Regions from separate parts of the Homo sapiens genome. Here regions 2, 3 and 4 are each linked to region 1. Evidence: fine-mapped expression QTL. A gene starts in region 1. Each other region holds a variant in brackets. All regions are shown on one strand. Distances are from middle to middle. Region 1 holds the start of EME2 (essential meiotic structure-specific endonuclease subunit 2). Region 2 has its middle 31 kb from the start of CCNF. Region 3 has its middle 12 kb from the start of HS3ST6. Region 4 holds the start of MIR3177 (microRNA 3177).

Region 1 (8,000 bases):
GAGAGGTCAGGCCCCACCCTGCGGGGACGCCCGCCTTCACTGGGCGGCACAGGAAGGTCGGCCAGGAGGCCCATGCGCTCCCGCTCCGTGCTGCAGGCCTCCAGCGCCTAGGAGCAGGCAAAGGCATGAGAGGGCGCCTGGGGACGGGGCTTCTGCACCTGGAGGGCTTGGAGGAGGCAGGGGCCCACCTGCTGCAGAAGGCGGGGGGAGGGGAAGGCTGTGACAACTGCATCAGCCACGGCTGGGCTGACCCGACTGAACTGCCTGATCTGCCTCCGCCAGGCCGCCTGCAGCCCTGCGCCGTCTCTTGCCACTGGCTCGCCGGCTGCCCAGCGCCCTGCTGTGCAGAAGGAGAAGGCCTGGGATTCCCGGTACTGCCTGGGGACAGAGAGAAGCCTTTTAGAACCTCATGTGAGCAGCTCCCAAAAGGCCGGGGAGGCACCACTACCTTGAGGTGATCCTGCCCCCCTTCAGCCTTGGCATCACGCACTTGAGGGGATACTGGGCGAGAGCCTTGGTAACGGCGCACACGTGCCGACTCAGCTCCTGCCAAGAGGCCACCAGTAGCACGTCCAGGTTTGCCCAGAGCTGCAGGAGTACCAGGGCCTGGGGAGGAGGCAAGCTGATGGGCACGAGCCAGAGGAAGGCTACCCGGGACACACAGCTGATAGCTGCCCCATGTACCACGCTGGGAACCAAACCCAGCCAGCAGCCCAATCACTGGGACCCAGGCCACCTGACTCACCCAGCTCAGACAGGCCCTCACCTCTTCCACCTCCGGCCAGCTGACGGCCACCTCGGCACCGGCCACCTTCGGGCTCTCTGGCTGCTGTGTCCCCCGGGAAACGTGCTGGCGAGACCTGAGCAGAGGTGACCATTCCTCCCCGCTCCCCATGGGGCCTGCCCTGCCCGAGCTTGGCCTCTGCCAGAGCCCACCTGGAGAAGTGGGATCAGCTGTGCCACAGCAACCCCAGAAGTGTGCCCACCTCCCCTGAACCCCCGTCCCAGCCAGCCCTGCTGTGGGCATGAGAGTGAGCGGTACCACAGGTAGGCATCCAGCCCGATGACAGCCAGGTGGGGCCGGGCGGTGGTCTCGGGGGAGATCCAGGGCACCCAGTGGGTTGGGCCAGAGATCTGAAGATGAGAACGTGTGGCACAGTTGTTCACAGGAGGCTGCGGCCTATGGCCATGGGCCACCAGGCCACAGCTGGTTTGCAGAACAGCAAGCCTGAAAAAGAGCCAGTGGTGCCGAGAGGAGCCTCTGTTCCGTTACCCCTTCTGAGAAAACCAGCTCTGTGCCTCCCACGAGGCCAAAGAGGCTAAGGAGACCCTGGAGTGGCTGCTCGGGCACATGTCAGTTCCATTGAGCCCCTCATCCTGGTCCACCTCTGTACTCCAGCCTAGCTTTGACCTAGCACAAAGCAGCAGCTTGAGAGACACTGATCCTGGGACACAGGGACCTGGCAGGGGGTCTAGCCTAACCCCACGCTACCTGGCACCACAGCACCTGAGCACTGCTCCCCGCAGGCAGGGGCCAGGCTGTCTGCTGTCAGAGGACGAAGCCTGCAGCCTACTGCCCGGACCCCGGCCTCCTGACACTTCTCAGGATCCTCTAGGAGCAGCTGTAGCCTCCGCAGGTGCCCAGGAGCTTTCTCCATCTCACCCTAGAAACCTCTACGGCTTTGGATCAGAGAGGAGTCCTGGCCTGCCCCATGCCCCCTCCAGCCCCGTCTACAGGGGCAGGGACCGGCGGAGCAGGCGCCTCCCGGCTGGGAACCCACCCCTCCTGATTAGAGAGGGACTACTGCCACCACCCGAGCACCTGGGTCAGTGTGGCGACGCCCTGCAGAAACTCCTCGGGCTCCAGCAGCAGCAGCAATTCCTGTTCACCTGCAGCCCACACTTCAGGAGGCAGCTGTGGGGACATGGGGACGCGCTGCTGCCTGTCTCAACCCCGGGTGCCCCAGGGGCCCTGCCTGGGCAGTCCAGCAGCAAAGCGGTTCGTGGCCCCAGCCAAGCCCAGGCCCTGACAGGCCTGCTCTACAGAAGCCCAGTGTTCCCTTTCCTGCCAAGGCCAAGCTCAGGCCAGGTCTCTGTGGCTGGCAGGAATCCAGACCACAGCCTGAATCGAGACGGAACCTTCTCCAGCCAGCTCGGCTCTATACCAGCAGAACGGCTTGGGCACCTCCACTTCCCGTTCTCCATCCTTGCTTTACCCATCCGCGAGACGCGCACGGCCCAGGGCAGCTGCCTCAGGGACAGCTCCAGGGCTGAAATCATGGAAGCAAAACAGCCAACTCGCGGCTGGCCCTCGGGAACCCGCGACCACTCACGCTGCGGGGGCAGGGGTCGGGACTCGCTCGGGTCCACCGCAGGCTGCGGGCCGGGCGCTGGGGCTCGATGCGGCACTCGCAGCCCAGGGCCTCCAGGGCCTCCATCAGGACGTCGGCACCGGCGTCTTCCAGGATGGCTGGGACCGGGGGAGAGGAGCGCGGTCACTGCTTCCTTCCACCCTCGCGAGCGCCCTACCTGGGCGGGTGGCCGGACCGGGGAGTCTCCATTCGGCACAAACCCCCGACTGGGAGGCGGGCCCGGCCCCAGGCCCCTCGGCACGCGCGCCCCGCCCAGTCGGACAGAGGGCGCCGCCTGGCGGAGAAAGGCCTTTCCTACCCCGAGTATCGCCCGTGCCCTCCGCCGCACCTGTGTCCACGCACACCGCGAGGCGCTTCAGGACCTGCTCCGGCCGCAGCAGCCGCAACGCCTCGGCAGCCGCCCTGCGCTCACCCGCTGGGTCCCGGGCTCTCGCGGCGGCCTCCGAGCCGGCGGAGTCCTCAGCGTCGGAGTCTGAGATCTCCCAGGTTGGAGGTCGCCGCTGACCGCTCCCGCCCCGTCCCCGGCCCCGGCCCTGGCAAGAGACCCCCGCCCTCCCGGGTCCAACCCGCGCCATGGCCGGACCGACCTCTTCCTCGCTTCCGGCCGCGACCGAACACTTTAGCCTGGGACACCGGCCTCTTCCGGTGACTTCCGGCCGGACCGCTGAGGACGCGGACCCGCCATGGCGCGGAAGAAGGTGCGTCCGCGGCTGATCGCGGAGCTGGCCCGCCGCGTGCGCGCCCTGCGGGAGCAACTGAACAGGCCGCGCGACTCCCAGCTCTACGCGGTGGACTACGAGACCTTGACGCGGCCGTTCTCTGGACGCCGGCTGCCGGTCCGGGCCTGGGCCGACGTGCGCCGCGAGAGCCGCCTCTTGCAGCTGCTCGGCCGCCTCCCGCTCTTCGGCCTGGGCCGCCTGGTCACGCGCAAGTCCTGGCTGTGGCAGCACGACGAGCCGTGCTACTGGCGCCTCACGCGGGTGCGGCCCGACTACACGGCGCAGGTGCGTGCACCCCGTCCGCACCCCGCCCCTGCAGCCGCCTGGTCTCCCCGCCTCCCCTCCTCCCTGCAGGTTTGCGTGGCTGAGGCTCCCACCTCCTGACCTCGGGGGCCGAGAGCTTTGCGAGCTGACCCCGCTTCCTTCTGGCTTTGCAGAACTTGGACCACGGGAAGGCCTGGGGCATCCTGACCTTCAAAGGTAAGGCTCGGGAGAGCGGGTGCCCGGCAGTTCGATGCCGACCGCCGACGGCACAGCAAGTGTGTGCAGACGCCTCTTTTTCTTCATCAGGGAAGACTGAGAGCGAGGCGCGGGAGATCGAACACGTCATGTACCATGACTGGCGGCTGGTGCCCAAGCACGAGGAGGAGGCCTTCACCGCGTTCACGCCGGCGCCGGAAGACAGCCTGGCCTCCGTGCCGTACCCGCCTCTCCTCCGGGCCATGATTATCGCAGAACGACAGAAAAATGGAGACACAAGCACCGAGGAGCCCATGCTGAATGTGCAGAGGATACGCATGGAACCCTGGGATTACCCTGCAAAACAGGAAGACAAAGGAAGGGCCAAGGGCACCCCCGTCTAGAATGCCAGAACCAGCGGGTGGCCTTAGGGGCTGTGAGGCAGTGGGGACCTTATTGATGAAAGAAACCGTCTTTGCGTTACACCCGAGTCTGCCTCTCGGAGCAGGGAGCTCACCTTCCGCGACGTGTTCTGAGGGTCTGCATCTTAGGGGGGAGGGCTGGGGCAAATCGCCACCTGTGCCTTTCCTCTGGCCCTGCTGCCCCCACACCCAACTCCGAGGGCCCACGCTGGGGAAAGCGGGAAGCGCTCGCTCCCTTTCCCCCATTAGTGCTCTCTCTGCCTGGATCCCGGCAGAAGCTATGAAAGGGAATAAAGAGAAAAGAAGTACCCAGGGTCGTGGTGTCTTTGCGCTCTGTCTTTAGGACCGGGGAGAGAAGGGCTGACGCTGTGGTCGTGGCCCTGGCCGGGGGGGCGCGGGGGGGGCGGGGTTCGGGCGGTGCGGAGCAGGGCGCCGCGTGGGTGGAACCACCTGGGCGGGTTGTGGGGGATACAGTTAGTGTCCGAGCTGCTGGAGGAGACTTGGCCTCCGCAGCTGCCCTCCGGCCCCCCACGGCTGCCGGGTTCCGGGGTGCAAGTGAAGCAGCCTCCCCGCGGAGGCCGCAGCGCCCCGACCAGGCCTCTTTAAGCGCAGGCCCCGCCCCGGGCGCCACCGCCCCGCCCCGCGGATCCCGCTCCCGCACCGCCATCATGATCTGCCTGGTGCTGACCATCTTCGCTAACCTCTTCCCCGCGGGTGAGCCGCGCGGCGCGGGCCGGGGGCGGGTGGCCGGTGCTGGGCCGGCCTGACGGCCCGTCCCCGCCTGCCCCGCAGCCTGCACCGGCGCACACGAACGCACCTTCCTGGCCGTGAAGCCGGACGGCGTGCAGCGGCGGCTGGTGGGCGAGATTGTGCGGCGCTTCGAGAGGAAGGGCTTCAAGTTGGTGGCGCTGAAGCTGGTGCAGGTGGGGGCGCGGTGAGCGAGCGGGGGCGCGGTGTGGGGGGAAGGGGAGCGGGGACCTGGGGACGCCTAGGTGCCGGGTGCGGGCGCAGGCGGCCTGACCCTTCCGCAGGCCTCCGAGGAGCTGCTGCGTGAGCACTACGCCGAGCTGCGTGAACGCCCGTTCTACGGCCGCCTTGTCAAGTATATGGCCTCCGGGCCGGTGGTGGCCATGGTGAGTATCCGGGAAGCGGGCGGGCGGCTCCGGGACCCCCACCCCCGCGTGATACCGCGCCCGTTCCTCCGCACAGGTATGGCAGGGGCTGGACGTGGTGCGCACCTCGCGGGCGCTCATCGGAGCCACGAACCCGGCCGACGCCCCGCCCGGCACCATCCGCGGGGATTTCTGCATCGAGGTTGGCAAGTAAGGCCCGCCCCGGGGACGGTCCCAGCCCCGTCCGGCCTCCCCCTGTTCAGCCTGCGTGGTACCCGTGCCGGAGGTCTCTTTCCCACGCTCACACGCGCCTCTTCCGCGCAGGAACCTGATTCACGGCAGCGACTCGGTGGAGAGTGCCCGCCGCGAGATCGCTCTCTGGTTCCGCGCAGACGAGCTCCTCTGCTGGGAGGACAGCGCTGGGCACTGGCTGTATGAGTAGCCCGGCAGATGCGCGTCACAGAGGCTCTCACACTCCAGCCTCCTCCAGGGCCCAGGTGGGCGGGCTTCTGGCCCCACCCCACAGCGCTTGGAGCATCCCTTTGGACGGGCTGCTGAACATCCACCTGTCTGGACGTTGCATGGAGGGTGGCGCAGGCCTCTCCAATCCCTGGCGTACAGGGTTTCCTGCCCGAGGAGCTGCTCCAGGAGCCTGCGCGGCTCGCCTGGAAACGTGCCAGGACACTGTCCTGGTGCCCAGCCCAACGTGGTCCAACGTTTTTTTATAATAAAGTCCTCGTTTTCGTTTCGATTTGGGCCCAGGAACAGGCAGCTACGACGTTAAGACATTTATTACATACAGAGCAGATATGTGGGTTTGCTTGCAGGGCCAAAGCCTGAGGAGAATCGTCACCCCTCCCCCAGCCGCCCCACTGCTCAGCCCGGAGTCACTTCGAGATCCTGGGGGAACAGACGAGGGAGCGGACATACATCACAGTGGAGGTGGCAGGGTGGTGGGGAGAAGCCGGCAGCGCAGCGGCTGCAGCCCTCGGTGGCCAGCGGGGCTTGTGGGGCAGCTCCCCAAGATCTGTGCTTCTCTGGTTGGGGGTGGGTGCGGGGGCTGGGCTGCCCTCATAAGGGCCTCCCAGACAGGAGTGCAGTGGGCCTGGAAGGTAGGAATAGGCCAGAGAGGCCCAGCTGGGCAGGGAGAGCAGTCCAGGGTGGCGTCTGCCCTCTGCGGGCTTGGAGTCGGCTGGGGGCGGCTCCATCCTCAGCCCCACGGGCCTCTGCTTGGTGGCCTCTCTGTTGCTCCCTGGAAGCAGGCCACAGCGGGCAACCCTAGGCACTTAGTAGCGTGTCTGGGAGCTGGGCTCCGTGGAGCCCCGTGCAGGAGGCAGGCCCCGGGAGCACATCATCCCCCATCAACCTGAGGCTGAGCCTGTGTCCTAGGACTGATCCCGGAGAGGCCAGGGGCCTCCCCTTCTTCCTGAGGCCTGGGCCTGCCCTGGCAGCCTGAGAAATCCCACCCTGGGGGCTTCTGGGAGGGACAGGACTCCAGGGCCCACTCCTCCAAGGTGAGTCTTCTGCCCAGGCAGAGCCTGGGGGGACACGGGTCAGAACGGGGCTGGCAAGAGCCTGCCTGCATGGGCAGGATGGGGTAGCAGTCTCTGTTCTCAAGCAGCTGCCCCAGGGAGCCGGGCCTCGTGCTTTTATGCCAGCTCCCTGGGCAGGGGACAGCTGGGGTGGGGACAGACAGGATAGAGGCTTGACGACGGGGAGGCCCCAGAGAAGGCCGGCTGGGGTGCAGGCACCTGGGCAGCCTGAGGCCCACCTCCCTGGGCAAAGGCTAGTGCCTGGCCCAGCTCCCCTAGGCAGAGTGAGGGCCCAGGAGGCAGGGTGGCCCCATGAGCAGCATGCAGAGGTGGGCCCAGGGCAGGCAGCCTCGGCGGCGGGGAGCCCCTGCCTCCTCCAGGGGTGCTGGGGAGTAGGAGGCCCAGGGTAGAGCCAGGACCACCTCGGATTCTGCCTGCGCTGGGCCCAAGGTGCCCTGGACTTGAGGACTCTGGGCTGGAAGCTGGCCAGGAGCTGCCCGGGAAACTGTCCCGAGAGCATCTTCCCCTCGGGTGGAAGTTCCCCTCCCCTCCTCCTCCCAGCTGATCCGCATCCCCGCACTCCCTGCCCGCTGGAGGGGCCAGACTCAGGTGAAAGCTGCAGGTTGAGAGGTTAGAAGAGGGGCGGCGGCGCCTGGCTGGCTACCCCGCGGGCCGGGCGGGGGTCAGGTGGTCGGGGGTCCTATGTACAGGTCGGGCCAGGCAGGGCAGCAGCTTCACTCGGGGGTGTAGGACACCTGCCACACGATGATGTGACTGCGCTCTGCCTTGGACAGCACGGGCTTCACCTGGCTCATGTCCCCTGCGCCCTCCTCCGTCTCGTCGTCCTCTCCGTCTCCTGCGGGCAAAGCAGCAGAGTGACGGCCAGGCTCCCCCCGCGCCCAACCTCAGCCCTGTCCCTGGGCCCCGCTCACCAATGCGGAAGTCGATGTAGCCCTCCCCGCCGCTCAGCACCAGCACGTTCCGCAGCTTCTGGCCCTCGACCTCCGAGGCAGGGGCAGCTGGCCCAGGGCCCTCGGCTGGGCTGTCCAGCACACTCCCATTCAGGGTGGCCAGCACGTTCCCTGGGATGGCAGAAGCGATTCAGGACAGCGGCCTCCTGGGGGAGGCGGCGGCCACTGGCATGCAGGGGATGTGGATGGCAGGAGGGGCCCAGCCTCACCTGGCACCGAGACAAAGAACTTCACGGCATCGCGGTGCCCATGGAAGCATAGCTGGGCCTGGGCCATGGAGCAGTAGGGGATGAAGCTGCTGGCCGCCCTGTCACTGCTGTCATCGCCATACACGTGGATGATGCCCCCGGGACGGGCGCCCTCCCCAGAGGTGGGGGATGTCTTATTGGCTGCAGGGAGAGAACCCAGAGGCG
Region 2 (8,000 bases), 630 kb before region 1:
ATGTAAAGTGTATATATACTATACACACACACTATATATGTGTATAATGTAAAGTATATATGTACTATATAATAAAATGTAATATATATGTAAAATATATATACTAATATGTGTATATATACACGCACATACTATATATATACACATACTACATATGTATATATACACGCACATACTATATATATACACATACTACATATGTATATATACACACACGTGTATATATACATATTATATATACATTTACAGTGTATATATGTAAGTATATATAATCATATATATATATATAAATAGTATATAGTATGTGTGTGTATGCACACACACACACTTAAATAATAGAGCCTGGGTCTTACTTTGTTGCCCAGGCTGGATTTCAGTGGTGATCATGGCTCATGGCCGCCTCAAATTCCTGGGCTCAAGGGATCCTCTTGCCTCAGCCTCCCAAGTAGCTGGGACTGCAGGCATGGGCCACTGTATCTGGCCTGGAACTAGTTATATAATTACTTACATAATATCCTTGATTATGCTGCTAAGCCTACATAGCATAAAATAGTTACTATGTGGTCCTTTTTTTTAGACATAGTCTCACTCTGTTGCCAAGCTGGAATGCAGTGGCCCTATCTCAGCCTACTGCAACTTCTGCCTTCCAGGTTCAAGCAATTCTCCTGCCTCAGCCTCCGGAGTAGCTGGGACTACAGGTGCAGGCCACCACACCCAGCTAATTTTTGTATTTTTAGTAGAGACGGGGTTTCACCATGTTGGCCAGGATGGTCTCGATCTCTTGACCTCGTGATCTGCCCACCTTGGTCTCCCAAAGTGCTAGGATTACGGGCGTGAGCTACCGCGCCCGGCTGTGTGGCCCTTTAAGAAAAAGTCTGCTGACCCCTGCTCTAGGCAAAAAGATGTGTTTGGTTGGCAGCAAAGTGTCAATGTGCCAGGAAACTATTTCTAGTCAAAGGCTTTGGGCCATCATTCTACTAAGAATTTGTCACACCAAAATAACCCAGGAAATTGACTTTTTTCCTTCAGTATGGTTCTGTAAAACATGGTGTATTTGTTATCTAATGCTGTGACACAGATTATCCCAAAAGTTAGTAGCTTAAAACAACAGTAAAAGTTATTATCTCACACAGTTTCTGGGGGTCTAGAATTTGAGAGTGGCTTAGCTAGGTGTTTCTATATTAAGATTTCTCATGAGGCTGCGGTTAAGCTATTAGCCAGGGCTGCAGTCCCTTGAAGGCTTGACTGGGGCTGGGGCATCTACCTCCATGAGCAGAAAGTTCAGAGAGTTTCCTATATACACATCTCCCACCCTCATTTCCCTATTTTTTTTTTTTCTTTTTTAGACGGAGTCTCTCTCTGTTGCCAGGCTGGAGTGCAATGGTGCAATTTTGGCTCACTGCAACCTCCGCCTCCTGGGTTCAAGCGATTCTCCTGCCTCAGCCTCCTGAGTAGCTAGGATTACACGCGTGAGACACCACGCCCAGCTAATTTTTGTATTTTTAATAGAGACAGGGTTTCACCATGTTGGCCAGGATGGTCTCAATTTCTTGACCTCAGGTGATCTGCCCGCCTCGGCCTCCCAAAATGCTGTTATTACAGGTGTGAGCCACAGTGCCCAGCCCCATTTCCCTGTTTTTAACATCTTGCATTAGGGTGGTACATCGTTACAAATGAAACAGCATTTCCATCAGGTTCTTTTTTTTTTTTTTTTAAGAAATTGATAAGTTTATTTTAAAATTTACATGATAATGTCAAGGATCTACAATACCCAAAACAATCTTCAACAAACAGAATAGGGTCTCAGTTTTCCCATCTGTAAAATGTAGGGGTTGAGCTCTCGCTCTCGCTCTCGCTCTCCCTCTCCCTCTCCCTCTCCCTCCTCCTCCCCCTCCCCACGGTCTCCCTCTCCCTCTCTTTCCAGGGTCTCCCTCTCATGCCGAGCCGAAGCTGGACTGTACTGCTGCCATCTCGGCTCACTGCAACCTCCCTGCCTGGTTCTCCTGCCTCAGCCTGCCGAGTGCCTGCGATTGCAGGCGCGCGCCGCCATGCCTGACGGGTTTTCGTATTTTTTTGGTGGAGACGGGGTTTCGCTGTGTTGGCCGGGCTGGTCTCCAGCTCCTAACCGGGAGTGATCCGCCAGCCTCGGCCTCCCGAGGTGCCGGGATTGCAGACGGAGTCTGGTTCACTCAGTGCTCAGTGGTGCCCAGGCTGGAGTGCAGTGGCGTGATCTCAGCTCGCTACAATCTCCACCTCCCAGCCGCCTGCCTTGGCCCCCCAAAGTGCCGAGATTGCAGCCTCTGCCCGGCCGCCACCCCGTCTGGGAAGTGAGGAGCGTCTCCGCCTGGCCGCCCATCATCTGGGATGTGAGGAGCCCCTCTGCCTGGCTGCCCAGTCTGGAAAGTGAGGAGCGTCTCTGCCCAGCCGCCATCCCATCTAGGAAGTGAGGAGCGCCTCTTCCCGGCCGCCATCCCATCTAGGAAGTGAGGAGCGTCTCTGCCCGGCCGCCCATTGTCTGAGATGTGGGGAGCACCTCTGCCCTGCCACCTCGTCCGGGATGTGAGGAGCATCTCTGCCCGGCCGCCCCGTCTGAGAAGTGAGGAGACCCTCTGCCTGGCAACCGCCCCGTCCGAGAAGTGAGGAGCCCCTCCGCCCAGCAGCCACCCCGTCTGGGAAGTGAGGAGTGTCTCCGCCCGGCAGCCACCTCGTCCGGGAGGGAGGTGGGGGGGTCAGCCCCCCGCCCGGCCAGCCGCCCCGTCCGGGAGGTGAGGGGCGCCTCTGCCCGGCTGGCCCTACTGGGAAGTGAGGAGCCCCTCTGCCCGGCCACCACCCCGTCTGGGAGATGTACCCAAGAGCTCATTGAGAACGGGCCATGATGACAATGGCGGTTTTGTGGAATAGAAAGGCGGGAAAGGTGGGGAAAAGATTGAGAAATCGGATGGTTGCCGTGTCTGTGTAGAAAGAGGTAGACATGGGAGACTTTTCATTTTGTTCTGTACTAAGAAAAATTCTTCTGCCTTGGGATCCTGTTGATCTGTGACCTTACCCCCAACCCTGTGCTCGCTGAAACATGTGCTGTGTCCACTCAGGGTTGAATGGATTAAGGGCGGTGCAAGATGTGCTTTGTTAAACAGATGCTTGAAGGCAGCATGCTCCTTAAGAGTCATCACCACTCCCTAATCTCAAGTACCCAGGGACACAAACACTGCGGAAGGCCGCAGGGTCCTCTGCCTAGGAAAACCAGAGACCTTTGTTCACTTGTTTATCTGCTGACCTTCCCTCCACTATTGTCCTGTGACCCTGCCAAATCCCCCTCTGCGAGAAACACCCAAGAATGATCAATAAAAAAAAAAAAAAAAGAAAAAACAGAATAAAGCTGGGAGAACAATATACTACCTGACTTTAAGATATACTGCAAAGCTACAGCAATCTCAACAATGCAGTACTAGCACAGGACAGACAAACAGATCAATGAAACAGAAGAGGGAATGTAGAGACATACAGTCAACTGATTTTTGGTTAAGGCATCTGAACAACTCAATGTGGAAAAAAAAGTCTTTTCAACAAATAGTCTGTCCCATCTGGATACTTATGTGAAAGAAAATGAGCCTCAACCCCTGTGATATATCATTATCACGAGGCAGTGGTATCATTATATCACACGGGTCAATAAAATATGTTTTCGTTCATAGTTCCTGGCCCGTAACTCGTGTAGCTGTTATTTCTCCCCAAGGCAGTCCACAGAAACTAAAAATATAATCTTCCTGCATCTTTCTGTCTTGGAGCTGGCCATAAAGAAATTCTCTGACCCATCTTGCCTGATTGTAGGTCATAAGACCTCCCCGTTTTAGAAGGTGTCCTATACCATACCCTGGGGGAAAGAACGCTGCACAGAGAGGCCAGGAAGGATCTGAACAGACAGGCCTTGCTGCGTTTCCCCACTCAGACTGTTAGTATTACATCATACTCTTTTTGTCCAGTCTCATTTCTACACAGCTGTCCATGCTTTAGTCATGCCTATCCAATGAAGTCTCCATAGAAGGCCCAAGAGGAGCTTCCAGATAGGTGAACAATTGGAGGTTCCTGGAGGGTGTCACACCCGGGGAGGCCACAGAGGCTCCATACCCTTTCCCACATACCTCACCCTATGCGTCTCTTCTTCTGTATCCTTTGTACTATCCTTATAATAAACTGGGAAATGTGTTTCCCTGCGTTCTGTGAGCCACTTTAGCAAATTAATTGAACCTAAGGAGGGGGTAATAGGATCGCTAGTTTACAGCTGGTCGGTCAGAAGTACAGGTAAGTGTGTGGTAGCTAACCCTGTAATCCCAGCTACTCAGGAAGCTGAGGCAGGAGGATCACTTGAGCCCAGCCCAAGAGATAGAGACCAGCCTGAGCAACATAGTGAGGCCTTGTCTCTTAAAATAAATAAATAAATAAATAAATAAATAAATAAAGGACAGGTAAAACAACCTGGGGCTTGTGATTGACACTGGAAGTGAGAAGTCTTGTGGAACCTAGCCCTCGACCTGTGGGATCTGATGCTATCTCCAAATAGTGTCAGAATTGAATTGGAGGACACTTAGCTGGTGTCTGCTGCAGAACTGATTGCTTGCTTGCTGTTGGCGGGAAATTCCCACACATTTTGTCATAGAAGTCTTCTGTGTTGATTGCTGTGATGTGAGAGCAGAAGAAAAACAGTGTATGTTTTTCCATTTCACCTCTTATCAAAC[C/T]GTACACAAGGCTGGGCACTGTGGCTCACGCCTATAATCCCAACACTTTGGGAAGCCGAGGTGGGAAGATTGCTTGAGCCCAGGAGTTAGAGACCAGCCTGGGCAATATTGCAAGACCTCGTCTCTACAAAATATAAAAAACCTAGCCAGGCGTGGTGTGCATCTGTAGTCCCACCTACTTGGGAGGCTGAGGTGGGATCACTTAAGCTCAGGAGCTGGAGACTGCAGTGAGCTGTGATCACACCACTGCACTCCAGCCTGGGTGACAGAGTGAGACCTTGTCTTGCATACACACACACACACACACACACACACACACACACACACAACCATACACAAAAATTAATAGAAAATGGGTCACAGACCTAATGTAAAAGCTAAAATGATAAAATTCCTAGAACAAAAAGTAGAAGCATGACTTTGTGACCTAAGGGTAGGGAAATATTTTTTAGAAAGGATACAGAACACAGTAACTATAAAAAAAATTTAGGGGCCAGGCATGGTGGCTTACGCCTGTAATCCCAGCACTTTGGGAGGCCAAGGTGGGCAGATCACCTGAGGTCAGGAGTTTGAGACCAACCTGGCCAACATGGTGAAACCCCGTCTCTACCAAAATACAAAAAGTTAGCTGGGCGTGGTGGCGTGCACCTGTAGTCCCAGCTACTCGGGAGGCTGAGGCAGGGGAATCCCTTGAACCTAGACGGCGGAAGTTGCAGTGAGCCAAGATCATGCCAGTGTACTCCAGCCGAGGTGACAGAGTGTGACCCTGTCTCAAAAAAATAAAATAAAAAGCTACCACTAAGAATATTAAGAAGCAAGCCACATACTGGAAGAAAATGTAGATAAAACACGTATCTGACAAAGATTTATATCTAGAATATACAAAAATTTCAAAAACTCAAAAAATGAAAACTGAGCTACAGGTTTAATAATTGCATACCTTTTGGTATATATGTTATACTTCAACAAAAATGTAAGTATTTAAAAAACTGGCTGTGTGTAGTGGCTCATGCCTGTAATCCCAGCACTTTGGGAGGCCAAGGGGGTGGATAGCTTGAGCCTAGGAGTTTGAGACCAGCCTGGTCAACATAATGAGACCTCATCTCCACAAAAAAGAAAATACTCTCAATGGAAGTGTTTAGCTGAAGATCAGAAACATCTGCAGAGAGAATCAACGACCTGGATGTAGATCAGAAGATATTATGTAGAGTGCAGCTCAGAGAGACAAAGAGTTGGAAAATATTTAAAAAGTTAAAATTCACATAGTAGAGTGATAAGATCTAATATGTCTAATTGGAGTTCCAAAACGAGAGGAGATATTTGAGCAGAGGCCCTGTATGAACAGATAATAATAGCTGGGGATTCTAAACTCATGGAAGATTTCCATAGCCAGACATCAATCAAGTCTCAAGTAGAATATGCATGTATCAAAATATCACATGTATCCCAGACATATGCACATTATGGATCAATAAAATTTGTTTAAAGACCAGGTGCAATGGCTCATACCTGTAATCCCAGCACTTTGGGAGGCCAAGGTGGGTGGATCACTTGAGGTCAGGAGATCGAGACCAGCCTGGCCAACATGGTGAATCCCCATCTCTACTAAAAATACAAAAGTTACCTGTAATCTCAGGCACTTTGGAAGGTTGAGGCAGGCAGATCACTTGAGGTCGGGAGTTTGAGACCAGCCTGGCCAACATAGTGAAACCTCATCTGTACTAAAAGTACAAAAATCAGTTGGGTGTGGTGGCAGGCGCCTGTAGCCCCAGCTACTCAGGAGGCTGAGGCAGGAGAATTGCTTGAACCTGGGATGCAGAGGCTGCAGTGAGCCAAGATTCAGGTATCCCTGTTATTGGAAGTACTAGTCAGAGGCTGGAAGGCCATTCAGTGAGGTTGCTACAGAAAAGATTCAAGCATCAGGCAATGTTTAGACAGATGACCTTTAAGATCCCTTCCAACCCTAAGAACCTTGGAGTCTTACAGTTTTATACGTGCTTACCTTATGAAGACATCCTCCATGGTCATGACAGAGGCCCCAAAGCTGGAGATGCCCAGCTCTACCTGCCTCAGTTCCAAGTCAGTAAATAGAGATTCAAACCTGGAAGGAAAGAAATGGTTTTAGTCCTGAAAGGTGTAAGGTGAATCCCTTTCATCACTGCCCTTGGCTCTCTACTGGGGAAAAAGCATGGACTTTGGAGTCAGGAACGTATTTTTTCAAACACCAGCTTTGTCATTAGCTTTATAACTATGTGAATGTCAGGGGCCCTTCACAGTTTTTTACCTATTAACTCTGTATTAAGGTCTGTGGATGCTTTCAACAGCTCTTTGAGGACAGTGCTGAGAAGTTAAGAAACTTCCCTGAGGCCACACAGCCAGAAGCAGAAGAGCCAGGACTCAAGCTCAGGCCTTTCGTCTCCAGAGAGAGTGGTTTTAATTGTTATTTAAGCGAGGAAAGGAGATAATTCTTTTAGCCTGCTAATGTTAAAACCTTTCTCAAACATGCTTTCCATTTTTTTTAAATTAAAACAATCATGGCTTTTGTTTGTGATATTAAGAAATCCATCATAATGTTCTATAATGAAGGCTTCTATTCTCTCACAACCTAGTGTCCAACTTTTAAGAAACCAGACACATATGCCAGATGCCTATACGAGGTCTGCAGGGGCTTTGTGTGTGTCCCTGTGAGCAGACAATGGTTATAAACTAATCATGGCTGGGTTTGAGTCTAGACTCTGTCACTTACAAGTTTTGTGACTTTGAGCTAGTTGTTTCACCTTTCCAAATCTTCCCTCACCTGTAAGACAGATATTACCTAATTCAAAAAGTTGTAAGGATTGAGAAAAATGTAAAGATGCTTAGCAAAGTAGCCCCCCTGTGTTAAATATTCAGCAAATACTATTTACTGAATATGATCAACAGTCACACCCTCAGTATGTTCACTATCTTGCTCTTCATTCAGTTTCCAGTTACTGAAATTGTACTCATGCTATTGCTACTGTCTTGCCAACAAGATCACAGTAACCATTTTAAAATATTGAGGCAGAATTTAGGTAAACTATCTTGTTCTTACATGTATAGTTTGATGAGTTTTGACAAATGTGTAATATCACCCTAATCAAGACACCGAACATTCCATCACCCTAGAAAATGCCCCCATGTCCCCTTTGATGAGTCCCTCTCTTGCCCTCAGACAACCAAATGTCCTAAATTTTACATTAGTTTTACTTCTTCTTGCTCTTCATGTAAATGGAATCATATGGTCTT
Region 3 (8,000 bases), 160 kb before region 1:
AACCTCCATTCAGACCCACACCGCTGTATGGAGGGGACCAGGGTGCCTTGAGGAAGGACCCCCCAAATTTATCCTGTTCGTCTTTTCCCAGCCTTCTCCAAAGGGATCTCTATGGCAGTGCACTGGGGAAAAGGAGATCATGAGACCTTCTGGGGACTCCTGGATGCTGGCTCTGAACCGATGCTAACTCTGGAGTCAGACGTCACTGGGTCAGAGTAGGGGCTTATGAAGGCCCAGTGACTGAGGGAGCGTTGGCTCGGGTCCGATCCCAGTGGACCTGTCCCGTGGTCATCCCCGGTTCCGGGTGTACAATTGGAAGAGGCACCCTCAATGGAAGGCAGCGTCCCCCCACAGGAGGGGCAGTGCCTGCAGTACAGGCCACAGTGGAGACCGGGGAGAGGCCAGCCGTGCTGCCAGCCCCTTCAGCCTGCTCACCCCTCACGGAGCTGACTCTGTCACCTGCCAGCCCCTCCGCAGCCCGGTCTAGCAGTCCCTGCTCTGACGTGGAGTCAGTGCCGTGGCAGAGGCCGCTGTCTCCCTTGCTGGCCTCGGACTGCTTGCGTGACCCTGATCTTGGGCGGGACATTCGACTTTCCTCTCTTTGTGCCTCCCTTAGTGGCACCCAGCCTGTCTTCCGGTTGGATGAGGGCACAGGAGAGCCACCCGGGGCGGGCAGGGGATGCTACAGTTGAATGGGTGCTGTGTGCACTGCCCTGTGGGTCAGAGGCCTGACTCCTGGCGCTGCTGGCCAGTGGGCTCTCCGTCTAGAGGTAGGGGCGCGTGGGGCGGGTGCTGGGAAGAGTCAGTGTTGATGAAAGCACCAAGGGCCCTTCGGGGAGGACCGTACCCAGAAGGGGCTTCCTGCTGCTTGCCCCTCCCCCAGCATGTGCTGTGGCAGCCTCCTGTTCTAGCAAATGTCTCCATCTCTGCCCTGCTGGGGGCCAGAACTGAGGCTAGCTGCCAGAATCTCCCTGGAGCTGCGGAGAGCAGGGGGGTGTCTCTCAACCCCTGATTCCAGCTCCCACCCATGCCCTGATTTTTTTACACCTGGACCCCAGTGTGTCCGACGCTGGCCACCAGCTAAAGTGGAGCCCGCTCTGGGGCTGCCCTGGCCACCCAGTGTCTTCGTTGGCTCTCGGGCACTGTCCTAGCCCAGCCTGTGGCCTGCCCACCCCCTAGTCCAGCAGGTGAGAGCAGGCCCGCTGCAGCGACTGACCCCAGTGCAGCAGGTACTCTCCTTAGCCTCATTCTTCTGGGGAGACAAGGGGGACTCAGAGAACGCGATTAGTCTGAGGCCACACAGCTGGGAGAAGCCCTGTGTCCTCTGCCGCCAGGGACCTGAGCCACTCCAGGCCACATGTGGCCGGCTGCCAGTGGCCTCTGATCAGGGTCCTTGTCCTGCCATGCTGAGTCATTTGGTGATGGCGGGTCTGGCAGGGGGTGCACAGGGCTCCCAATACTGTTCTAGGCAGCCAGTTCAGGTCCTCTATGCCCACACCTGTCCCTTTCTGCTTCTCCCTGCAGGAGGAGCAGTGGCTCTGGGAAGGGCTCTGTGGGCAGGTCCTGTGGAAGGCGGCTCTGCTGCGGCAGGGAGGGAGCTGCTGAATGGGCAGCAGGCTTCCCAGGCACAGGGCCAGGCAGGGGCCTGGGCTGTGCTGCCTTCTCCCAGCACTCCCAGCTCTGCACCTGGGGCCAGTGTTTCCCCGAGAGTGGACTCAGGCCCAAGAGCAGACTGGCCTTCGCCTGCAAACTGGGCCCCTGTGTGCAGGGTTTTGTCCCCAGGGCTGTCTACCAGGCTCAGGCCGGTAGCTGGGTGGCTGGAGGCCTGCTGGCGCCTGGGGATCTCAGCCACAGCAGTGCAGGGGTGGTGATCCTGGTGGGGGCTGGGGAGTAGTGCCTCCTGCCTGCATCCCAGGGCCCCAGGCTCATCCAAACATCCATGTTAAGGTGGTGGGCCGGACACAGTGGCTCACGCCTGTAATCCCAGCACTTTGGGAGGCCGAGGCAGGTGGATCACCTGAGGTTATGAGTTCTAGACCAGCCTGACCAACATGGAGAAACCCCATCTCTACTAAAATACAGAATTACCCGGATTACCCGGGCGTGGTGACCCATGCCTGTAATCCCAGCTGAAGGGGAGGACTGCCCCTCCACACCTGTGGGTATTTCCAGTCGGGTGGGACGAGAGACTGAGAAAAGAAATAAGACACAGAGACAAAGTATAGAGAAACAACAGTGGGCCCAGGGGACCGGCGCTCAGCATACTAAGGACCTGCACTGGCACCGGTCTCTGAGTTCCCTCAGTTTTTATTGATTATTATTTTCGTTATTTCAGTAAAAAGGAATGTAGTAGGAGAGCAGGATGATCATAAGGAGAAGGTCAGCAAAAAACATGTGAACAAAAGAATCTATATCATAATTAAGTTCAAGGGAAGGTACTATGCCTGGATGTGCACGTAGGCCAGATTTATGTTTCTCTCCACCCAAACATCTCAGCAGAGTAAAGAATAACAAGGCAGCATTACTGCAAACATGTCTCACCTCCCACCATAGGGTGGTTTTTCTCCTATCTCAGAACTGAACAAATGTACAATTGGGTTTTATACCGAGACATTCAGTTCCCAGGGGCAGGCAGGAGACAGTGGCCTTCCTCTATCTCAACTACAAGAGGCTTTCCTCTTTGACTAATCCACCTCAGCACAGACCCTTTACAGGTGTCGGGCTCGGGGACGGTCAGGTCTTTCTCATACCACGAGGCCATATTTCAGACTATCACATGGGGAGAAACCTTGGACAATACCCTGCTTTCAAGGGCAGAGGTCCCTGCAGCTTTCCACAGTGCATTGTGCCCCTGGTTTATTGAGACTGGAGAATGGCAATGACTTTTACCAAGTATACTGCTTGTAAGCATTTTGTTAACAAGGCACGTCCTGCACAGCCCTACATCCCTTAAACCTTGATTTCATACAGCACATGTTTTTGTGAGCTCCAGATTGGATCAAAGTGGTTGGGTCAAAGTGGCTGGGGCAAAGCTACAAATTAACAACATCTCAGCAAAGCAATTATTTAAAGTACAGGTCTTTTTCAAATGGAGTCTCTTATGTCTTCCCTTTCTACATAGACACAGTAACAGTCTGATCTCTCTTTCTTTTCCCTACACCAGCTACTCGGGAGGCTGAGGCAGGAGAATCGCTTGAACCTGGGAGGCTCAGGCTCAGCCTGGGAGGCTGAGGCTCAGGGAGGTTGTGGTGAGCCGAGATGACACCATTGTACTCCAGCCTGGGCAACAAGAGCAAATCTCCGTCTCAGGAAAAAAAAAAAAAAAAAGATGTGGTAGGGAGGTGGGGGTGGGAGGGGGCAAGTGGGCTCAGGAGGTGGGGGGGGTGCCGGCAAGCAGACTGCTTGAGTGGGGAGACGGGTGAACCGCAGGACCCCAAGGCCCCCTCACATTGAGAGTCCAGGGAGGGATGGCTGTGGGCAAGGTCTGTATGCCAGGTCACCGGAGGAGGGGGTGGTGTTTCCAGCAATGGAGCGTCTGGTGTGGAATCAGTCACCTTACCCTCCCGCTCCTGCTGGGTGATACCCCATCCTTGCGGCTGCCCCCGCGTCTTCCTTGAGGAACAGCAGACTCTGAGGGGGCAGCCCCTTCCTCCCCAGGGCACGGCCTTGCCCCTCAAGGGTTGGGTTCAGGGGCAGCGGGCAGGCCTGGGCACGGCTGGGCCGTCACCTCGGGCGAGGGATGGGGAATAAAAAGGAACTCTGTCTGAGACACCGTGATCCCTCGCCGGGGCCCAGGCCTGGCTCAGAGCAGCCACCAGGAAGCGTCTGCGGCCCGTATGGGGGAACAGACCATACTTCAGACCCTTGCTCAACCACCGCTTTCCGCTCTCTCAGTGGCAGGTGCCGCGCAGAGCCTGGCCCTGGTGGGGCTGTGGCCCCTGGTGGGGGTGGGGGCCGTGGGCAGCTCCCGGGAGGCTCCTACCCGCGGACGGGTCGGCAGGTGGGAGGAGGGGGCGTCCGGTAGGGTCGGCGAAGGCGCCGAGGCCACGTGCAAGCCCCGGCCCTCGAGGCGGCCTCCCGGGCCCGGGCGCGGGACCGTGCGCAGGACTGACCAGCAGGGGGCACGCTCGCTC[G/C]GTGCTGCCAGGCCGGGTGGTCTGCGTGCGCAGGCGCGGCGGGGGGCCTGACGGCGCTGCAGTTCCCCGGGTGGCCGCGGGGGTTGCGGCGGAGGCAGCGAGCGTCCGCGCAGAGAAACCGCCTCGGCCACGCCCGCCCTTGGGCCGGTGCTGGGGACCCAGGCCGAGGCCTCTGGTCGTCTGAGGGTGCCAGGGGCAGCTGCAGGGGGTTTGCCGGGCTTCACGAAGTGACCGCTACAGGGAGTGCAGTCGCAGCCACGGGTGCCCCTTCCAGGGTCACCGGAGGACAGAGCCAGGGGCGGGGGCGGGGGTGGCGCGGCCGGTGGGAACGGCAGGCGTGGTTGGGGGCGCGGGTGGAGGCAGGACGCCCCCAGCCCCTTCTTCAGGGCAGCTGCGTGGGACCCAGGCTGCCCGGACCTGGCCCGCCCTCAGGGCTAGATCCTAGGGTTCCACATCCCAGGCCTCTTTCCTCCGCCCACCTCTCCCCGCTACAACCCAGGCAGCTCCTGGCTGCCTTCCCCCAACCAGAGTCCTCTCTGCAAAATAATAACCAGACCAGGTCCCTCCCTCAGAGGTTCCCACAGTCCTTGCCTGCTCTGACCTAGGCTGACCCCACCTCTCCAGCTTGATTTCCTACTCCATAAATGAGATCGGTGTTGTTTATCATAATTACAGTTTGGGGTTGTTTCTTTTTTTTTTTTTTTTTGAGACGGAGTCTGGCACTGCCGCCCAGGCTGGAGTGCAGTGGCGCGATCTCGGCTCACTGCAAGCTCCGCCTCCCGGGTTCACGCCATTCTCGTGCCTCAGCCTCCCGAGTAGCTGGGACTACAGGCGCCCACCACTGCGCCCGGCTAATTTTTTTGTATTTTTGGTAGAGCCGGGGTTTCACTGTGTTAGCCAGGATGGTCTCGATCTCCTGACCTCATGATCCGCCCAGCAGGGCCTCCCAAAGTGCTGGGATTACAGGCATGAGCTACCGCGCCGGGCCTGGTTGTTTCTTCTTGAGAAGGGGGTTTCTCTGTTGCCTGGGCTGGAGTGCAGTGGCATGACCATGGATCACTGCAGCCTTGAATTCCTGGACTCAAGCGATCCTCCCAGGTCAACCTCCCGAATAGCTAGGACTACAGGTGTGCTACTACGCCCCGCTAATTTTTGTATTTTTAGTAGAGACAGGGTTTTGCCATGTTGTCCAGGCTAGTCTGGAACGCCTGGGCTCAAGTGACACTCCCGCTTTGGTCTCCCAAAGTGCTGGGATTACAGGCATGAGCCACTGTGCCTGGCTAATTTTTTAAAAAAACTTTTTGTAGAGACGTGCTCTGGCTTTGTTGCCCAGGCTGATCTTGAATTCCTGGGCTCAAGGGATCCCCCACCTCGGCTTCCCAGAATGCTGGGATTATAGGTGTGAGCTCCTCAGCCCAGTCAATTATGTTGTTGTTACTGCCCGCATCACCTGAACCCAAACCCTTTCACCTGCACCTCCAGGCAAACCAGACCCCACTCTAGAAACACATCCTTGCATTCCTAGAGTTTGTTTTTCCTTCTTCTGTTTTGTCCTTCCACACGCATCACAACCCTTCTAGAAGCTTTTCTTGGGGGCTCTGCCCCAGTGGTCCTCTCCTTCCCCCACAGCAGGGGCCTGGGTGGGCCTCCTCTGTGCATGCAGACTGGGCCCCTGTTACCCTCTTGCAGGCCTCACCCATCCTAGGTCAAGGAGCTCCTCAAAGCCATCAACCACAGCACCTTCATCTCATTCTCTCTCTCTCTTTTTTTTTTTGAGATGGAGTCTTGCTCTGTCGCCCAGGCTGGAGTGCAGTGGCACAATCTCGGCTCACTGCAACCTCCGCCTCCCAGATTCAAGCGATTCTCCTGCCTCAGCCTCCTGAGTAGCTGGGATTACAGGCGCGCGCCATCACGCCGGCTAATTTTTGTATTTTTAGTAGAGAGGGGGTTTCACCATGTTCGCCAGGATGGTCTTGGTCTCTTGACCTCGTGATCTGCCTGCCTTGGCCTCCCAAAGTGCTGGGATTACAGGCGTGAGCCACCATGCCCAGTCTTTTTTTTTTTTTTTTTTTTTTGAGATGGAGTCTTGCTCTTTTGCCCAGGCTGGAGTACAGTGGCACAATCTCGGCTCACTGCAACCTGTGCCTCCCCCGGGTTCAAGTGATTCTTCTGCCTCAGCATCTCGAGTAGCTGGGACTACAGGCATGCACCACTACATCCAGCTAATTTTTTTTTTTTTGTATTTTTATCAGAGATGGGGTTCGCCATGTTGACCAGGCTGGTCTTGAACTCCTGACCTTAGGTGATCCGCCTGCCTCAGCCTCCCAAAGTACTGGGATTACAGGCATGAGCCTCCACACTCAGCCCCAAATATATTTTAAGTGTCTCCTTTTCTCTATCACCAATGCCACCTCCCCAGCCCAAGGCTCAGTCATTCCTCACCTTCAGTACTGTGATAACCTGGTTTAGAACCTAGTTGATTCGGGCCAGGCGCAGTAGTTCGGTCTCCCAAAGTGCTGGGATTACAGGCGTGAGCCACCATGTCTGGCCCTCATTCTGTTTCTTAAATGCTGAGCCCTCGGGGTGCTGCGTACGGCAGCAGCAGATGAAGAAATGTTCACCCACTCACACCACCTGCTCCGTACTCCCCTTCAGGGTTGCACAATCTTGGGAGGGGTGCCAGATGTGTACCCCACATCTACATGGATGTGTTGGCGGTCTGGGGAATGCAGGGTCCTCAAGCCACCTATCACCCTCTCCAGGGCCTGGGCACTAAGGCTGTGGTTAACAGAGCTTGGGGTAAGAAGCCCTGGGAAGAAGGTTGGTGGGGCTTCAGTGACAGAGGGCCAGGAGGCGGCTGGGGAGGGGCTCAGGGTTACCTGTGGATAAGCTTTCTCCACTTCCAACCCCTCACGGCCCTCCACTCCCTGTCTCCTTGTAAAACCTTGGAGGTTATTCATGGTTCAGCCCCTGACTTCCTGTCTTACCGAGTTTCATCTCCAGGACATTTATAAGCTACTCTTGGCTTCGAAGGGTTTGGTGGCTGCAATGCAGGAGAGGGGAGGAGAGGGTGGCCAGAACCAGGTGGGCTGGGTGCCAGGACCCCTGGGGTCTGCTTCCAGCCATGGACTAGGCCTGCTGGCCCTGGGCTTCCCCTTCCACCTCAACTCCATGGCCTTTTTGGTCTCGAAGTCTCTCTCGGAGTATGATTCTTTGCTGGGCCCCAGAACTCCAAGCCGGGGAGCCCCTGGTGTGTATCCAGGTCTAAGGCGAGGGAGGGCAACTGGAGTCAGAGAGAGGACAGCAGTGACCAGCCTGGGAGATGAGGGATGGAGTCCTGGCTCTCGGCCAGAGGGGTGGGGGGAGGGGGAGGGGTTGACTTTGAAGGCTGTGAAGCCTAAGAGGGGCGAGGCAGGGGTGGGGGTTGGGAAGAGGAATTTAGAGCTCTCGGCCTGACTGCAGGTTCTGAGTCCTCCTGAGCGTTGAACCGAGTAAGACAGGCCACATGCCTGTCTGGTCCACTGCGGGGGTGAGGTGCTGCCCCCGGAAGTAGGGCAAATGGAGGTGCCCTTGCTGGGGATCCTGTCTGCTGGCCAGGGGGGACTAACTCTTCAAAAGGGGCTTACAGGCAGGCGCGCACGGTGGCTCGTGCCTGTAATCCCAGCACTTTGGGAGGCCGAGGCAGACGGATCACCTGAGGTCATGAGATCGAGACCATCCTGGCCAACATGGTGAAACCCCATCTCTACTAAAAATACAAAAAATTAGCTGGACATGGTGGCACATGCCTGTAATCCCAGCTACTCGGGAGGCTGAGGCAGGAGATTCACTTGAACCTGGAAGGCGGAGGTTGCAGTGAGCCGAGAT
Region 4 (8,000 bases), 36 kb after region 1:
CACGGATGCTCACACGCTCACACGGATGGTCACACGGATGCTCACATGGACGGTGACACGCTCACATGGACGGTCACACACGGACGGTCACACACACACGGTCACACAGATGCTCACACGGACGGTCACACGGAAGCTCACACGGACGGTCACTCACACGAACGGTCACACAGATGCTCACACGGACGGTCACACGGAAGCTCACACGGACGGTCACACGGAAGCTCACACGGACGGTCACACACGGACGGTCACACACACACGAACGGTCACACAGATGCTCACACGGATGGTCACACGGAAGCTCACACGGACGGTCACACACTCACACGAACGGTCACACATGCTCACACGGACGGTCACACGGAAGCTCACACGGACGGTCACACGGAGGCTCACACGGACGGTCACAGGGATGCTCACATGGACGGTCACACGGATGCTCACACGGACGGTCACACGGATGCTCACACGGATGCTCACATGGATGGTCACACTCTCACACGGATGGTCACACACTCACACGGACGGTCACAGGCTCACATGGATGCTCACACGGACGGTCACACAGATGCTCACATGGATGGTCACACTCTCACGGACGGTCACACGCTCACACGGACGCTCACACGGACGGTCACACGGATGCTCACATGGATGGTCACACTCACACGGATGGTCACACACACGGACGGTCACACGCTCACACGGATGCTCACACAGACGGTCACACAGATGCTCACATGGATGGTCACACTCACACGGACGCTCACACGCTCACACGGACGCTCACACGGACGCTCACACAGATGCTCACATGGATGGTCACACACACGGATGCTCACATGCTCACACGGACGGTCACACAGATGCTCACATGGGTGGTCACACTCTCACACGGACGCTCACACACATGGATGCTACACGGATGGTCACACAGATGCTCACATGGATGGTCACACTCACACGGACGCTCACACGCTCACACGGACGCTCACACGGACGGTCACACAGATGCTCACATGGGTGGTCACACTCACACGGACGCTCACACGCTCACACGGACGCTCACACGGACGGTCACAGATGCTCACATGGGTGGTCACACTCACACGGATGCTCACACGCTCACATGGATGCTACACGGACGGTCACACATGCTCACATGGATGGTCACACTCACACGGACGCTCACACGCTCACACCGATGCTCACACGGACGGTCACACAGATGCTCACATGGATGGTCACACTCACACGGATGCTCACACGCTCACACGGATGCTCACACGGACAGTCACACAGATGCTCACATGGATGGTCACACACACGGACGGTCACACGCTCACACGGATGCTCACACGGACGGTCACACATGCTCACATGGATGGTCACTCTCTCACACGGTCACACGCTCACACGGACGCTCACACGGTCACACGGATGCTCACATGGATGGTCACACTCACACGGATGGTCACACACACGGACGGTCACACGCTCACGGATGCTCACACGGACGGTCACACAGATGCTCACATGGATGGTCACACTCACACGGACGGTCACACGCTCACACGGATGCTCAAATGGATGGTCACACTCTCACACGGATGGTCACACACACGGACGGTCACACGCTCACGGACGCTCACACGGACGGTCACACAGATGCTCACATGGATGGTCACACACACGGACAGTCACGCTCACACGGACGGTCACATGGATGCTCACATGGATGGTCACACTCTCACACGGATGGTCACACACTCACACGGACGGTCACACGCTCACACGGATGCTCACACGGACGGTCACACAGATGCTCACATGGATGGTCACACGGACGGTCACACGCTCACACGGACGCTCACACGGACAGTCACACGGATGCTCACATGGATGGTCACACACACGGACGGTCACACGCTCACACGGATGCTCACACGGACGGTCACACAGATGCTCACATGGATGGTCACACACACGGACAGTCACGCTCACACGGACGCTCACACGGACGGTCACATGGATGCTCACATGGATGGTCACTCACACGGATGGTCACACACACGGATGGTCACGCTCACACGGATGCTCACACGGACGGTCACACAGATGCTCACATGGATGGTCACACACGGACGGTCACACGCTCACACGGACGCTCACACGGACAGTCACACGGATGCTCACATGGATGGTCACACACACGGACGGTCACACGCTCACACGGATGCTCACGGACGGTCACACAGATGCTCACATGGATGGTCACACTCTCACACGAATGGTCACACACTCACACGGACGGTCACACGCTCACACGGACGCTCACACGGACGGTCACACAGATGCTCACATGGGTGGTCACACTCACACGGACGCTCACACACTCACACGGACGCTCACACGGACGGTCACACAGATGCTCACATGGATGGTCACACTCTCACACGGACGGTCACACACTCACGGACGGTCACGCTCACACGGATGCTCACACGGACGGTCACACAGATGCTCACATGGATGGTCACACTCACACGGACGCTCACACGCTCACACGGACGCTCACACGGTCACACGGATGCTTACATGGATGGTCACACTCTCACGGATGGTCACACGCTCACACGGACGGTCACACGCTCACACGGATGCTCACACGGACGGTCACGGATGGTCACATGCTCACACGGACGGTCACACAGATGCTCACATGGATGGTCACACTCACACGGACGGTCACACGCTCACACGGACGCTCACACGGACGGTCACACGGATGCTCACATGGATGGTCACACTCTCACACGGACGGTCACACGCTCACACGGATGCTCACACGGACGGTCACACGGACGGTCACACGCTCACATGGACGGTCACGGATGCTCACATGGATGGTCACTCACACAGACGGTCACACACGGACGGTCACACGCTCACGGATGCTCACATGGACGGTCACACACGGACGGTCACACGCTCACACGGACGCTCACACGGACGGTCACACGCTCACACGGACGGTCACACACGGATGGTCACACAGACGGTCACACGGATGCTCACATGGATGGTCACACGCTCACACGGACGGTCACACGCTCACACGGACGCTCACACGGTCGGTCACACGGATGCTCACACGGACGGTCACACGCTCACACGGACGGTCACACGCTCACACGGACGCTCACACGGACGGTCACACGGATGCTCACATGGATGGTCACACGCTCACACGGACGGTCACACACGGACAGTCACACGCTCACACGGATGCTCACACGGACGGTCACACACGGACGGTCACACGCTCACACGGACGCTCACGGTCACACGGATGCTCACATGGATGGTCACACGCTCACACGGACAGTCACACGCTCACACGGATGCTTACACGGACGGTCACACACGGACGGTCACGCTCACACGGATGCTCACACGGACGGTCACACACGGACGGTCACACGCTCACACGGATGCTCACACGGTCACACGCTCACACGGACGCTCACGGTCACACGGATGCTCACATGGATGGTCACACGCTCACACGGACAGTCACACGCTCACACGGATGCTTACACGGACGCTCACACGGATGGTCACACATGCTCACACGGACGGTCACACGCTCACACGGACGCTCACACGGACGGTCACACAGATGCTCACATGGATGGTCACACACACGGACGGTCACACGGATGCTCACATGGACGGTCACACTCTCACACGGATGGTCACACACACGGACGGTCACACGCTCACACGGATGCTCACATGGACGGTCACACTCTCACATGGACGGTCACACGGATGCTCACATGGACGGTCACACGGATGCTCACATGGGCGGTCACACTCACACAGACGGTCACACGGATGCTCACGGATGGTCACACGGATGCTCACATGGACAGTCACACAGATGCTCCATGGACGGTCATATGGATGCTCACACGGGCGGTCACGCTCTCACACGGACGGTCACACGGATGGTCACACAGATGCTCACATGGACGGTCACACTCTCACATGGACGGTCACACGGATGCTCACATGGACGGTCACACTCTCACATGGACGGTCACACGGATGCTCACACGGACAGGCACACAGACGCTCACACGGACGGTCACACGGATGCTCACATGGATGGTCACACTCACATGGACAGTCACACGGATGCTCACACGGATGGTCACACGGATGCTCACACGGATGGTCACACGGACTCTCACATGGACGGTCACACTCTCACACGGACGCTCACACGGACGGTCACACGGCTGCTCACACGGATGGTCACACGGACGCTCACATGGACGGTCACACTCTCACACGGACGCTCACACGGACGGTCACACGGATGCTCACACGGATGGTCACACGGACGCTCACATGGACGGTCACACGTTCCACACGAACGCTCACGTGGATGCTCACATGGACGCTCACACGCTCACATGGACGCTCACTCACATGGACACACACGGAAACACGGACAGTCACATGGACCGTCGCACACTCACAGACGGTCACATGCTCACACGGATGCTCACACCGATGGTCACATGGACGCTCACACGGACGGCCAGGATGTGGTGATGTGAGACACGCAGGGCGGCCGTACCCCGATGAGACAGAAGCCACACACAGGCACCCAAGAGGGACAGACATGCGACACACGAGCCCTCTTGGCTTTGACAAGAGGCCCTGGAACGGGGCTGTGTGGCAGTTCAGCCAGTGCCACGTGTCCCCAGTGCCGTGCACTGCGCGAATGTCTCAAGACAGCGCCTGGCACGTGTGTACACATGGCACGTGGTGACGGCACACATGTGGCCACACAGACACACACACACTCTGCAGCAGTGGCCCGAGAACACTG[CCTGG/G]CGTTTGCACTCACACCGACTGCATTCCAGACACACACTCACTAAGCCACGCCAGGCGTGAAGGAAAATGTCCATCTGGGTCAGGAAGGAGGGCGCCCAGCGCTGAGGATGGACGGCGCCCTCATGGTGAATCAAGGGGTTTTGGCTGAGCAGATGGGACTGACTCAAATATGTGTCCCCCAAGGGACCAAAGGTTGTGGCAGGACAGAATCCACACCAGAGAAGAGAGAGCAGGTGTCCAGCAGGGACGGGCTCCTTCCAGCTCAACTGCCCAGCAACAGCATACATCACCAAGGCCTGTCCCAGCACCCCTGACCCCACAAAGGCAAGCACTCGGGACAGGGGAGGGGGGCCGTGCCTTCCTCCTTTAGCTGGCTCATGCCTTCAGAGGCACAAGGCTGTGGCTGCCATCCACGCCTGCAGGCAGGTGGCAGACAGCACGTGAGCCCCACCCTCTCCTTCCTGGCCAGGGTCTCGGCCTGGGGAGGCAGGGGACACACGAGCCCGGAGGTGGCTCTTAATGCCACCACCGCAACAGCAGGCGTGACCGATTCCGTGCGCTGGTGATGCGGCTCAGTACCACCGCCGGCCAGGGAGGGAGGCAGGGGTAGCCCAGCCATAGCCCTGCCCCTCTGTCGCCCCCATGGAGCATGCTCCCGTCAGGGCCTCGGCATGCTCAGGGAGACAGGGCCGCCAGCCCCAGCGCCTTCTTCCCGCAGGGCCAACGTCTTCTCACGTGCTGTGGAGATCTGGCAAGGAGGCCCAGGGGCCAGAGTAATGTAGCTGCGCAGACCCCACTGCAGGGTGCCTTCTGGCTGGATCCAGTCATGGCAACCAAGGCTTTGGTGTAAACCTGGATGAGACCCCTCCCTCTCCCACAGAGGTGCAGGGGTCCTGTTTCACAAATGGAGGCTTCCTGGGGTCCGTGGCTGGGGAAGGCCCCTACCACACAGCCACTGCTGCTGGCGTTGCTCCCACGGCCGGTGCCAAAGGTCCTGTGTGCCCAGAAGAAGTGAATGGCTGGGGCCAGGTCAGGCAGAAGGACCTGGTTGTGGCAGCGCTGACAAGAGAGCACCCCAGATCCATCCCTTACAAAATGATCGAGGGGCTTCTTCCAGAGGGCACCGTCTGGTTCCCTGAGGGGAGTGCAGCAGCCCTGACATAGCCTTCAGGAGCCGTGGCAGAGCTGCAGAGGGGACCCCAGCAGTGGGGCCCTGACAAGGACGAGGTGCACCACCATGGGGCTTCCCACTGAACTCTCGGCGCCAGGACGAGCCAAGGGACGGGGGCGGCGCCCAGCCCAGACTCAGCTCAGGTCCCTGGGTCCCGCGGGGACACCTCGACAGCAGGTTCCTGGGCCACCTTCTGCCCCACACCATGAGAGAAACATGCAGGACGAAGTACTCCTTGCCCCGCAGCCACGCGCCTCTTCCAGGTAGGCCTGGCCTGGCCCATGACGACGGCAGCATCAGGCGGCTCTGGAGCTGGGGCAGCCTCTGCTCTTGGCTGAGCTCACATGGCCCTGGGGCTCTCAGGACCTCTCGGGTGTTGTCTGTGGGCCTGGGGTGGGGATCACTGCAACTCGGAACCTGGGCTCTCGGCCGGCGTCCTGAGTTCACACGTCACACCTCTGGGATCTGGGATGAGCTGGGCACACTGTTGCTGGGCTCCTCCTGCCCAGGCGCCCTCCGACACAGCCTCAGAGGCACTCCTGTCTGAGGCTGCGCTGGCAAGGAGGCAGCTGAAGGTTCTGGAATGCTGCAGCTCCCAGGGGATGGCCAAACTGCCTGCCTCTGCCCCCAGCTCCCCTGAAAAACAACACAAAGATCCCGGGTCCAGGTTCGATTTTAATTCCAGTTAGCTTGGAATCCTCTTCCAACTGCCGAGAGCCAGAGGTGAGGATGTCCCAGCGTGCATGCCACGAGACGGGAGCTGCGAATGAGAATCTCCCACTGTGGGATCTGATGGAAACACCTGCAAGGCTTTCACAGCTTGCCAAGCTGGCATCCACACGCCCCGGTGTAGTTCTCATGGTGCTCCAGGTGGGCGGATGGCTGGCGCTGCCCATTCTTGGGGCAAGCTGGCATCCACACGCCCTGGCGTAGTTCTCATGGTGCTCCAGGTGGGCGGATGGCTGGCACCACCCGTTCTCGGGGCAAGCTGGCATCCACACGCCCTGGCGTAGTTCTCATGGTGCTCCAGGTGGGCGGATGGCTGGCACCACCTGTTCTCGGGGCAAGCTGGCATCCACACGCCCTGGCGTAGTTCTCATGGTGCTCTGGGTGGGCAGATGGCCGGCGCCGCCCGTTCTCAGGGCAAGTCCCTGAGAACTGCAGGTCCCTGCTCCAGCTGAGAGCAGCGAGACTGCCTGAGGACCTGCTGCTGCAGGCTCCACGGCACGCCCCTGGCCAGCTGGGCCTTTGCGCACACCGTGCATTTGCTCTCACGTCCAGAGACTCGGAAGCAGAGTCTGACAGCTTCTTCTGTATCATCCAGAACGTGACCCATGAAGCCCAGAGCTGGACGTTCTGACCCTTCTCGTTTGCAGGTGTAACCCCCAGAACAGGCAGGCACGATGCAGCTTTCGCAGCTGGCCAGGCCTTGATGGGGTGTGAGGGAGGCTTTTGCCATCGCAGCCCTGGCTGTGGGAGGCTTGGGGGCAGAAACAGGCTTCCCCCCTTCCAGCTGCCCCAGCTCTGTAGGACGGCAGCTTCTGACTTCAGGCCCTTCCTCCCCGCTGCTGGAGACTCAGAACGAGAGCGCCAACCTCCCCAGCCCAGGTCGCGTCTCTGGTCTCCCATGGCCGGTCCCCTGGAGCTGCAATACCCTGGCAAGATCTCTGATGCTCTGCTCCCTGGGGCCTGCAGCCCGGCTTTCTCCTGATTCAAAGGGCACAGAAAACGGAGAGGAACCCATTCTAGGCAGGCTCCCCCGACTCTCTGAGGAAAACCAGCACCGAGCCCTGGAAACCCACCGGTACCCCCACCCTGTGGAAGGAATAAGACTCAGTGCAGGGCTGGCCAAGGCTCCTGGGCTCATCCACACAGTATTTGAGGCAGTATGTTCTAGAAAGTCCCTCAAACACTA

The links.
Region 2: its variant is fine-mapped to the expression of EME2 in lymphoblastoid cells (GTEx, PIP 0.97).
Region 3: its variant is fine-mapped to the expression of EME2 in whole blood (TOPMed, PIP above 0.99).
Region 4: its variant is fine-mapped to the expression of EME2 in whole blood (INTERVAL, PIP above 0.99).

What each region holds. Positions count from the first base shown.
Region 1 is chr16:1,768,175-1,776,174 of GRCh38, reverse strand. EME2 (essential meiotic structure-specific endonuclease subunit 2) reads right to left here and starts at 3,365. Exons shown (of 8, transcript NM_001257370.2): 1 at 2,701-3,365; 2 at 2,334-2,470; 3 at 1,823-1,915; 4 at 1,043-1,134; 5 at 767-860; 6 at 491-606; 7 at 189-378; 8 at 1-107. The coding sequence starts at 2,947. MAPK8IP3 (mitogen-activated protein kinase 8 interacting protein 3) reads right to left here. Exons shown (of 32, transcript NM_001318852.2): 30 at 7,797-7,976; 31 at 7,549-7,698; 32 at 5,824-7,472. The coding sequence ends at 7,351. NME3 (NME/NM23 nucleoside diphosphate kinase 3) reads left to right here and starts at 4,632. Exons shown (of 5, transcript NM_002513.3): 1 at 4,632-4,686; 2 at 4,765-4,895; 3 at 5,004-5,105; 4 at 5,182-5,294; 5 at 5,409-5,855. The coding sequence starts at 4,641. The coding sequence ends at 5,526. It overlaps MRPS34 (mitochondrial ribosomal protein S34), which reads left to right and starts at 3,041. Exons shown (of 3, transcript NM_023936.2): 1 at 3,041-3,376; 2 at 3,529-3,571; 3 at 3,662-4,280. The coding sequence starts at 3,056. The coding sequence ends at 3,954. RefSeq lists enhancers at 1-495, 1,331-2,119, 2,977-3,116, 3,907-3,996, 7,507-7,556 and silencers at 2,297-2,356, 2,367-2,476, 2,487-2,796, 2,827-2,926, 3,287-3,426 and 2 more.
Region 2 is chr16:2,394,674-2,402,673 of GRCh38, reverse strand. It overlaps the pseudogene ABCA17P. Among named protein-coding and RNA genes, the nearest start is that of CCNF, 31 kb to the left of the region's middle. RefSeq lists an enhancer at 1,570-2,317. The variant C/T (reference allele first, on the strand shown) is at 4,734.
Region 3 is chr16:1,925,988-1,933,987 of GRCh38, reverse strand. No RefSeq gene overlaps it. Among named protein-coding and RNA genes, the nearest start is that of HS3ST6, 12 kb to the right of the region's middle. The variant G/C (reference allele first, on the strand shown) is at 4,134.
Region 4 is chr16:1,731,831-1,739,830 of GRCh38, reverse strand. The region is part of intron 4 of MAPK8IP3 (mitogen-activated protein kinase 8 interacting protein 3); the gene reads right to left. MIR3177 (microRNA 3177) reads right to left here and starts at 4,846; the gene lies at 4,765-4,846. RefSeq lists enhancers at 1-553, 3,866-4,365, 4,366-4,867. The variant CCTGG/G (reference allele first, on the strand shown) is at 4,910.